Regions from separate parts of the Homo sapiens genome. Here region 2 is linked to region 1. The links come from fine-mapping of genetic effects on gene expression. A gene starts in region 1. The other region holds a variant in brackets. All regions are shown on one strand. Distances are from middle to middle. Region 1 holds the start of TAB2 (TGF-beta activated kinase 1 (MAP3K7) binding protein 2). Region 2 overlaps TAB2 (TGF-beta activated kinase 1 (MAP3K7) binding protein 2).

Region 1 (4,000 bases):
ATCTAACAATTCTTCCCATTGTTTCTAATTAAAATGCTCAGCCAAAGCCTACAACAAAAGAAAAGCAAGTCTTCCTTTATTACAAACTGCCATGGTTTCAAAATTTACAGTTTCAAACCGTCAAAAGTTTAAAATCGTGATTTCATTGTTACAAAGAATGTAAAGATATTTTTTAAAAGGTGTCAATACTCTGCTACTGTATGAACAGTGTAGTAAGCAGAAGTGAAAAAACTGAAAGCAAATATTCTATTCCATGCCCACTAAAATTCCCGGCCAAATCTGGAATTGCATAATGATCATCATAACCTTTAGAGTATGCTAAAGCGGAAACGAAATTCCTTTTCTAAAATGTGAATCAATCTGACCCCAAAATTAGACACTTTACAAACTTACCTAAAACAGACAAAATGGATGCAAAATTATATTGCCGTACAGTTGCTCTGAATACGATCTTAGCGTTCAAGAACTTTCCAATGAATAAGGGTACTCAACAGCCTGCACTGGGGGCCTAAATTTCGTGAACTACGGAGAAACCCCTGTGAGGCTGCAAATTCCCTCCGCTCTCCTGGAAAACCCTCTTATCAGAAACATTTGAAGAATTTATCCACAACAATTAAGCTGACTTGAAGAATGGAAACCTAACATCTCAAATATACTATATATGGAATGAAACATGGCCAAACACATAAATACAAACTCACACGGTCTCTGACACTTTGGTGTACGACTGTGCCTGAACATCTCACAGCATCAGCAACAGAAAGATCCACCTGTCACCTGTTCAGCACCGCCAAGAGACCCTTGCAGCCTCCCTGACTCAACCACAATCGTAGGGTTTGAGGTTGATGGGACCGAAAACCAGAAACATCCAGTGAAATTTAAGGGGCCACATATTCATAGTAGGGCTTGCCCCCCACTTCAAAGACGGCTGCAGAAAACCAAGATCCGCAAAGGAACGATGTTCTCCCTCCCGCCCGACCCCCACATAACTGCCCCGTGTCTGTCCCCAAAACCCCCGCCCCTGAGTCATCTTTAACTAGACCTCGGCTCCCCAAAAGGAGATTTTTCCTCCCCCGCCCCCACCTCACACATGCCTGGGGGCGGGTCAGGGGCGCCGACGCAGGGAGGGGCCCTCCCGAGCCCCTTGCGCCCTCCCCCACCCGGGGCTCTCCTAGGCGCTCGATTCCAATGAAGCTCCCCCTCCCCCCCCGCACGGACGCCCCGGAGCCCAGGCCCGGCCCGATGCTCCCCACCCCCACCGGACTGGGGGACTCGGGGGGCCTCCCTCTCCGCCACGCCACTGGGGGAAGGAAAGAGGCGGAGGGAGGAAGAGTGCAAGTTAGAAGCGAACGCCCCGCACGGGCCTCGCGAGGCGGCAGAGCCCCTTCCAGACGGAGGGGGGTGCGGGGCGATGAGGGGAGAGCCAGGTTGGGGATCCCGCCGAGGCCCGGCAGCGCTGTCCGCTTACCCTTTGCCGCCGCCGCTTCCCCCTCCTCCTCCTCGGCCGCCGCCGCCGCCGCCTCTCCCACTAGGGCAGCCGTCTCCACCGTCGCCTCCGCCACCACGGCCGCCGCCAGCGCCGCCGCCGCCTCCGGTTCCACCCGGCAGGGGGGACACCTCAGCCCTCCCTCCCTCCCCGCTCAGCCCCCTCCGCTCGCCCGCCGCCGCCAACTCCCTCCGGCCGCCGCCGCCGCCACCGCTCCTGGCTGAGGGGGAGGGGAGGGGGTCGGGCTGGGTCGCCCCGCCGGCGGCTGCAGCAGATCAAAAACGACGGCTGGGCGGCGTCGCCGCTCCCCAATCCTCAGCTCCGGCTCGCTCGGCCTCCCCACCTCCCTCTGCCCCCACCCCCCTCGCGCTCGCCTGCCCTCCCCCCACCCCCCCAGCTCTCGCTCGCTCTCGCCGCGGCTCCGCCAGCCCAGTCCAAATCAAAATACTGTCACACAATATGGCGGCGCGGCGGCCGGCAAACACCGCGAGATCTGCAGCCGCGGCTGAGGCGGCGGCTGTGACGAGGCCTCCCCTAGCCGAACGGCGGGGGAGCAGCAGGCGGCGGCGGCGGCGGCGGCTGCGGCTGCGGCCCGGGGATGCTCTTCCTCCGACCTGTACCCCTCCCCCGACACTCGCAGTCTCTACGCCTGTCTTGCTAGGGCTGGAGGGAGGACGCGGGCCGCCGCTGGGGCCGTGCGAGGGGGGTGCCGGTGCGGGCAGCCCGGGGAGGGCTGGGACCCCCTTTCTCCGCCTGGGCCCCCCATCCTTGGGGGTAGGTTGCGGGTTCCACCTCCCGCCACGGGGGCCGCTAGCAGTTTGGGCTGAGGGAAGAAAGGAACTGAGCTCGCGTCCCAGCTGCACCTAGCGGAGGGGCTGGCCGGGTCCGGAAGTGGGTGGCGGGACTTGCCGGGCGGCCGGCGGCGCCGCGCGGGTGGGGTCCGGGGGCCCGGCCGGACCCCGGGGCGCTGCGGCGGCCGAGAGGAGCAGGTGGGCCCGCGGCGGAGGCTGGCGCCGGGTCGCTGCGGTCCGGGACACACCCCCTTGGAGCCGGATCGCACCGCCGGCTAACGGGAGGGACCCGTGCAGAATCGTCCCTAGGGTGTGCGGGAGACGTCTTGGGAGCCTCACAACTGGCAACTTCGAGACTTGGAAAAAGTGTCGGCTTCTGACTTTTCTTGAGCAGTTGAGGGGGAAAAAAGAAATCTAAATGCTGCGAGGGTTTCGTTGTTTCGATTTTATTTTAATTGCACGTTCCTAGAAGTCCTAGAAGCAGAGCCAAAGACTAGCTTTGCGGGAAGAGGGGGGGCCTTCAAGTTTCTACCTCCTTAAATAAATATTTGTTTAGTGTCCCCCTAGGGAAAAAAAAAGCGTGTTTAATACTCAGACGTTTCTCACAATGTGAAATATTTATTTAAAAATTCTAGCGCTTCCATGGTGTCCAAAACACTAGGGCATTTTTCTGCCCCTGTCCAAAATGTCCATATCCCTGGCAGTTTCTTCCTTGAAACAATTCTTACTCCAGAGAAAAATCCTAAAGGACCATTTTTATACTTTTATTTCCAGTGTGAGCACTGTAGCTACAGTGAGAATTTTTTTTAAACCATCTTTTAAATAGTAGAGCCTTCCTCACAGTTAAAAGTTCTTTCTCCCCACTTCCTTTTTCCTCATTCATCCTTTGAAAATACCTGAAGTCTGGGCTATAGCACCAATTCAAATACTTTGCCACTTCAAAAGCTGAAAGTACTTATGATTTACAATATCGGAATTTAATTATTCTCCATTGGTGATACCATTAAGAGAAGCAAAAGTAAAATTAGGATTTACAAAATTGGGAAGATTCTAGTTTTACTGGCGAGAAGAAATCATTAACTTTAACGCTTTACAGCAGTTCTCTGAGGAATTATTTCCATACTCAATGATAAAATAATTGATTAAATAATTTTAGATAAACTGAATCCATTAAGTAAATTTCACTTGTCTTTGAAACCATTATAAAGTACAGAGGCAACAATTGCTTTTGAAATGGTAGGATGATGTATTTTATGCAAATTTTTAAAAAAATTTATGGAATGTACATGTACGTATTTTAATAGAAATATAATGCTTTATAGATTATAGGTTTGAGCAGGTCAAGTCTAAAAACCAGTGGGGGGCAAAGAAGGTACATATAACAAATACATCCTTGCACCAGCAGTGCACTTAGAGCTATGTAGTCATGAGGAAGCATCAGACAAACCCAAGTAGAGGAAAATAAAATATAAAATAACTAGCCTGTATTTTTAAATCATGACCAATGTCATAAAAGACAAAGACTGCAGACTAGAAAAAACTAAAGACATGGTAACGAAATGCAATATGTGACCCTGAACTGGATCCTTTACTGGAGGAGAAAAATGTCATATAGGACATTATTGGGATAATTGGCGAAATTGGAATATGGGCTGTAGATTAAAGAATTGTATCAATGTTAAATTTCCTGAATATGTTTGCATGAGAATATCCTTGTTTATAA
Region 2 (4,000 bases), 63 kb before region 1:
GTGTTATCTTTCCCTATGGTTGCCTTTTTTTAATTAATGGTTTTTTAGCTACATCCCTCTCAAATTGAGGCACATGTGGCCCCCACAGTGTTGTACCATGGGCTATAAGTGAAGCTACAAGATACACTTAAAATATCTTTCCAGAGGGTTTATTATGAAAATCTGGAAAGAAAGACATTATATGATAGTGGTTAACATTGTGGGCTTCTCTAACTTCCTAGTTAGAATTTTTTTTTTTTTCCTTTAGACAAAGTCTTGCTGTCACCCAGGCTGGAGTGCAATGGCATGATCTCGGCTCACTGCAACCTCTGCCTCCCGGGCTCAAGCGATTCTCCTGCCTCAGCCTCTCGAGCAGCTGGGATTACAGGCGTCTGCCACCACGCCCCGCTAATTTTTGTCTTTTTAGTAGAGATGGGGTTTCACCCTGTTGGCCAGGCTGGTCTTGAACTCCTGACCTTGTGATCCACCCACCTCGGCCTCCCAAAGTGCTGGGACTACAGGCGTGAGCCACCGTGCCCAGCCTCTAGTTAGAATTTTGACTCTGCCACTTGTCCTTTGACAAGTTACTTAATCTATCTGTTCTTCAATGTTTTAGTCTAAAAAATAATACTAGTGCAAATAAAAGGGCCCTAAAGTTTGCCTTCTATGTTTAAGGAAGAGAGTAAGAAGGCCAGGAGGGCTGGAACACAGTGAGCAGGTGGTAAGCAAAAGGAAAAGAGCTGGGGGGAGAAGCTGCTCATCCTGTAGGGCTTCATAGCTTTTATTCTGAGTGCAATAGATAGTGATCATGTGCAGAGAAGTGATATGATCTGATGCATATTTTTAACAGTATCTCCCTGGATGCTGAGTTGAAAGAAGACTGCAAGGAGGCAAGGACGAGAATGGGTAGGTCACTGCAATAATCCATTTGAAAGGTGATGATTGCTGAGACCACAGTAGTGATGATGGGGGAAGTAAGAAGTCACAGGCCAGGTGTGGAGGTCACGCCTGTAATCCTAGCACTTTGGGAGACTGAGACAGGCAGATCTCTTGAGCCCAGGGGTTCAAGACCAGCCTGGGCAACATAGGGAGACCCTGTCTGCAAAAAAATACAAAAAGTTAGCTGGATGTGGTGGTGTGTACCTGTAGTCCAGCTACTAGGGAGGCTAAAGTGGGAGGATCACTTGAGCCCAGGAGGTTGAGGCTGAAGTGAGCTGTGAACATGCCACTGCACTCCAATTTGGACGAAAGAGCGAGACCCTGTCCCAAAAAAAAAAAAAAAAAAAAAAGAATAGGAGGGGAATTGAAGATAGCAAGTTTAAGAAACACTTTATTTTCACATTCTAGTTAAACATGAATATCTTTTTAATATCACTAAATATGAATGCCTACTTTACTTGAAAATTTCCCTTATCAAATTATCTTCATAAAAAATTTGCTACTTAAGAATCAGCAACTATCCAACCATAGGAAACCTGATGTTTTGATGGAAGGACAGGAAGAGAAGGTGACTTTGGGAGAAGAGGAGAATTAAGTTGTAAGTGGAAAAAATAATAGCATATAACATTTATAAACTGCTGAAACTAAACAAAAATGGTTGTAGTTAATCACAGATATATGGAAAATAAAAGTTTTAACACAATTTCTAGGGCAATTGAAATCACTCATGTACCCCTAAAATGCACACACACAAATACATGCACACGCATACCTAGGATTCACTTTACTTAAGTTTGGGCAGAGCCCTGCGTACTTTATTTTTGAGATAGGGATCTCGATATGTTGCCCACGCTGGAGTGCAGTGGTGCCCTGCAACCTCAAACTTCTGGGCTCAAGCAGTCCTCCCACTTTAGCTTCTGAGAAGCTGGGACTACAGGCGGGTGCCACTGTGCCCAGCTGATTTTTTAAAGCTCCATGAATGATACTGGAATTCGAAAGGACCACAACCCAGCTTGGACTAAGAATCACTAGTGTAGCTGTTTAAAACATAAAATAAGGCAAAGCAATTAGGACCCCCTAAGAGACTCAGCAGTAAAATCACTGTATCAGAAATGTAAAAAAGGATGAGGATATTAGTGACAGTAGGGGCTGCATGCTGCCTGAGGGTGATGTTATAGTATTTTCCAACCTACAGCTGATACATGAAATGATTCACTGCAGATACATATATGACTAAGATATGCCCTTACTCTAAAAGGCTCAGTTCATCTACAAACTGGCATAAATATTCAAGAAAATGAATAACCTCCACCTTCTTATCTAAATGTATTTATTTAACAGTCCTACTGAAAATTATGTAACTTAAGAGGTTAGATAAAACATATGACAGAAATTTCTCTATTTGAATTAATATAGACATAATGTAGTATGCCAATATCAAA[TAG/G]TCTATTTCAGAAAAGGATAATCAATTGAAAGATTTGAAAATAATGTCCTTATAATTCCATGTAAAAAGAAATATATTAACCAACATTTAAGGGAGAATAAAAGGGACAAATATCAGGAACAAGATTCAAACTTCTCTTTGAGGTAAATTATTCTAATACTTACGCAGTAATAGACTTAATATAAAATAAGACTAAAATGTTGTATTAGAAAAATGAAGAATTTCCCCCCACCCCAGAGAAGGGTCTCACTCTGCTGCCCAGGCTGGGGCAGAGTGGTATGGTCACAGTTCACTCTAACCTTTGAACTCCTGGGCTCAAGCAATCCTCCTACCTCAGTCTACTGAGTAACTGGGACTACAGGTGTGTGCCACCATGCCTGCATAATTTCAAAACCTTCTGTAGAGACGGAGTCTCCATATGTTGCCCCAGCTGGTCTCAAACTCCTGGGCTCAAATGATCCTCCCATCTTGGCCTCCCAAAGCACTGGAATTACAGGCGTGAGCCACCATGCCCAGCCAAGAATTACTTATTCTTCAAATATCTGGTCAAAGAAGGCAAATTTACCATATTAGTCAAGAGAGTCAACTAGTTGCTTATTAAAACGTTATTTCTAGGAATTTTTATTTACAGAAAATTTAAAGAGAAAGTCAGCATCACCACAGGTATAAGATTAACTGAAAAGAAAGTGTTATAAACATTAACAAACCAACTAACCAGATTTGGTTACTCTGAAGAGCTGATAACCCAATTACTCAAACTTCCAGTTTTATAATAATAAAATAAAATTAAAATTAAAATGTATATACATATAATACTCTCAAATGTTACAATAACATCATTTGGGGCAATATTTAAACAATGAAATAACAATGCTAACATCCATTTCTGTTGTGAAATCAAATGCACACCAACAAGCCCAGCATGGAAAACCATCCCACCTTTAGTATTCATATTACCTTGTGTGTAGGCAGCATCATCAGATCCCATACTCAGTTTCCGTGTTTCACTTATTCTATCCACATGTGCTAATGTAGGGTCCGTGAGGTGCTGAATATTCTCGGTTTCTACATAATGATCAGGATGATTAAGAAGATTTGTAAGTTCAAAGGTAGGGGACACCACCCCTGGTGAAACTGCAGGGGGCTTATTGGGAGAGACTGTAATTTTGAAAGTGTATTTCGTATTGGGCTGAGTGACTACCACTCGAGGAGAGGTTGCAGAGTTATTGCCTATTGCTCGACTTTTGGGAGGATGGTGATGAATAAAGGCAGGACCCATGCTCACTTGCCCAGACATGTTCCTGGAGGCAGCAGATGCTCCAGAGTTTGTGGATATGAAGAGTGTGGGCTGATTCCGCATGACCTGTTCATCTCCTGTGGCAGCATTCGCTGAAATATAGACCTTAGGTTGACTACGGGACATCAGCTCATCCGTATTTGGGGGGCTGGCAGCTATGTAAACAGTGGGCTGATTTCTGTTTAAGGTCTGGCTATTGACTGAAGAGGAAGTGCTGGAGGTTCGAGGTCCAGAAGAACGCAGTTTTGAAGAATTATTTCTTTGTGGGGGTTCAAGTTTGATTTCAATCTGGTTTTTTCGAGGTCCTGTTGAAATATTCTGAATGTTATATTGGCTATGGG

The links. PIP is the estimated chance that this variant, and not a neighbour inherited with it, causes the effect.
Region 2: its variant is the best candidate, but not a certain one, in a credible set for the expression of TAB2 in aorta (GTEx, PIP 0.69).

The regions. Positions count from the first base shown.
Region 1 is chr6:149,315,484-149,319,483 of GRCh38, reverse strand. It overlaps TAB2 (TGF-beta activated kinase 1 (MAP3K7) binding protein 2), which reads right to left and starts at 1,772. Exons shown (of 7, transcript NM_001292034.3): 1 at 1,469-1,772. RefSeq lists enhancers at 440-549, 710-889 and silencers at 980-1,879, 1,970-2,509, 2,560-2,629.
Region 2 is chr6:149,378,838-149,382,837 of GRCh38, reverse strand. TAB2 (TGF-beta activated kinase 1 (MAP3K7) binding protein 2) reads right to left here. Exons shown (of 7, transcript NM_001292034.3): 3 at 3,320-4,000. Among named protein-coding and RNA genes, the nearest start is that of SUMO4, 19 kb to the left of the region's middle. RefSeq lists an enhancer at 3,068-4,000. The variant TAG/G (reference allele first, on the strand shown) is at 2,361.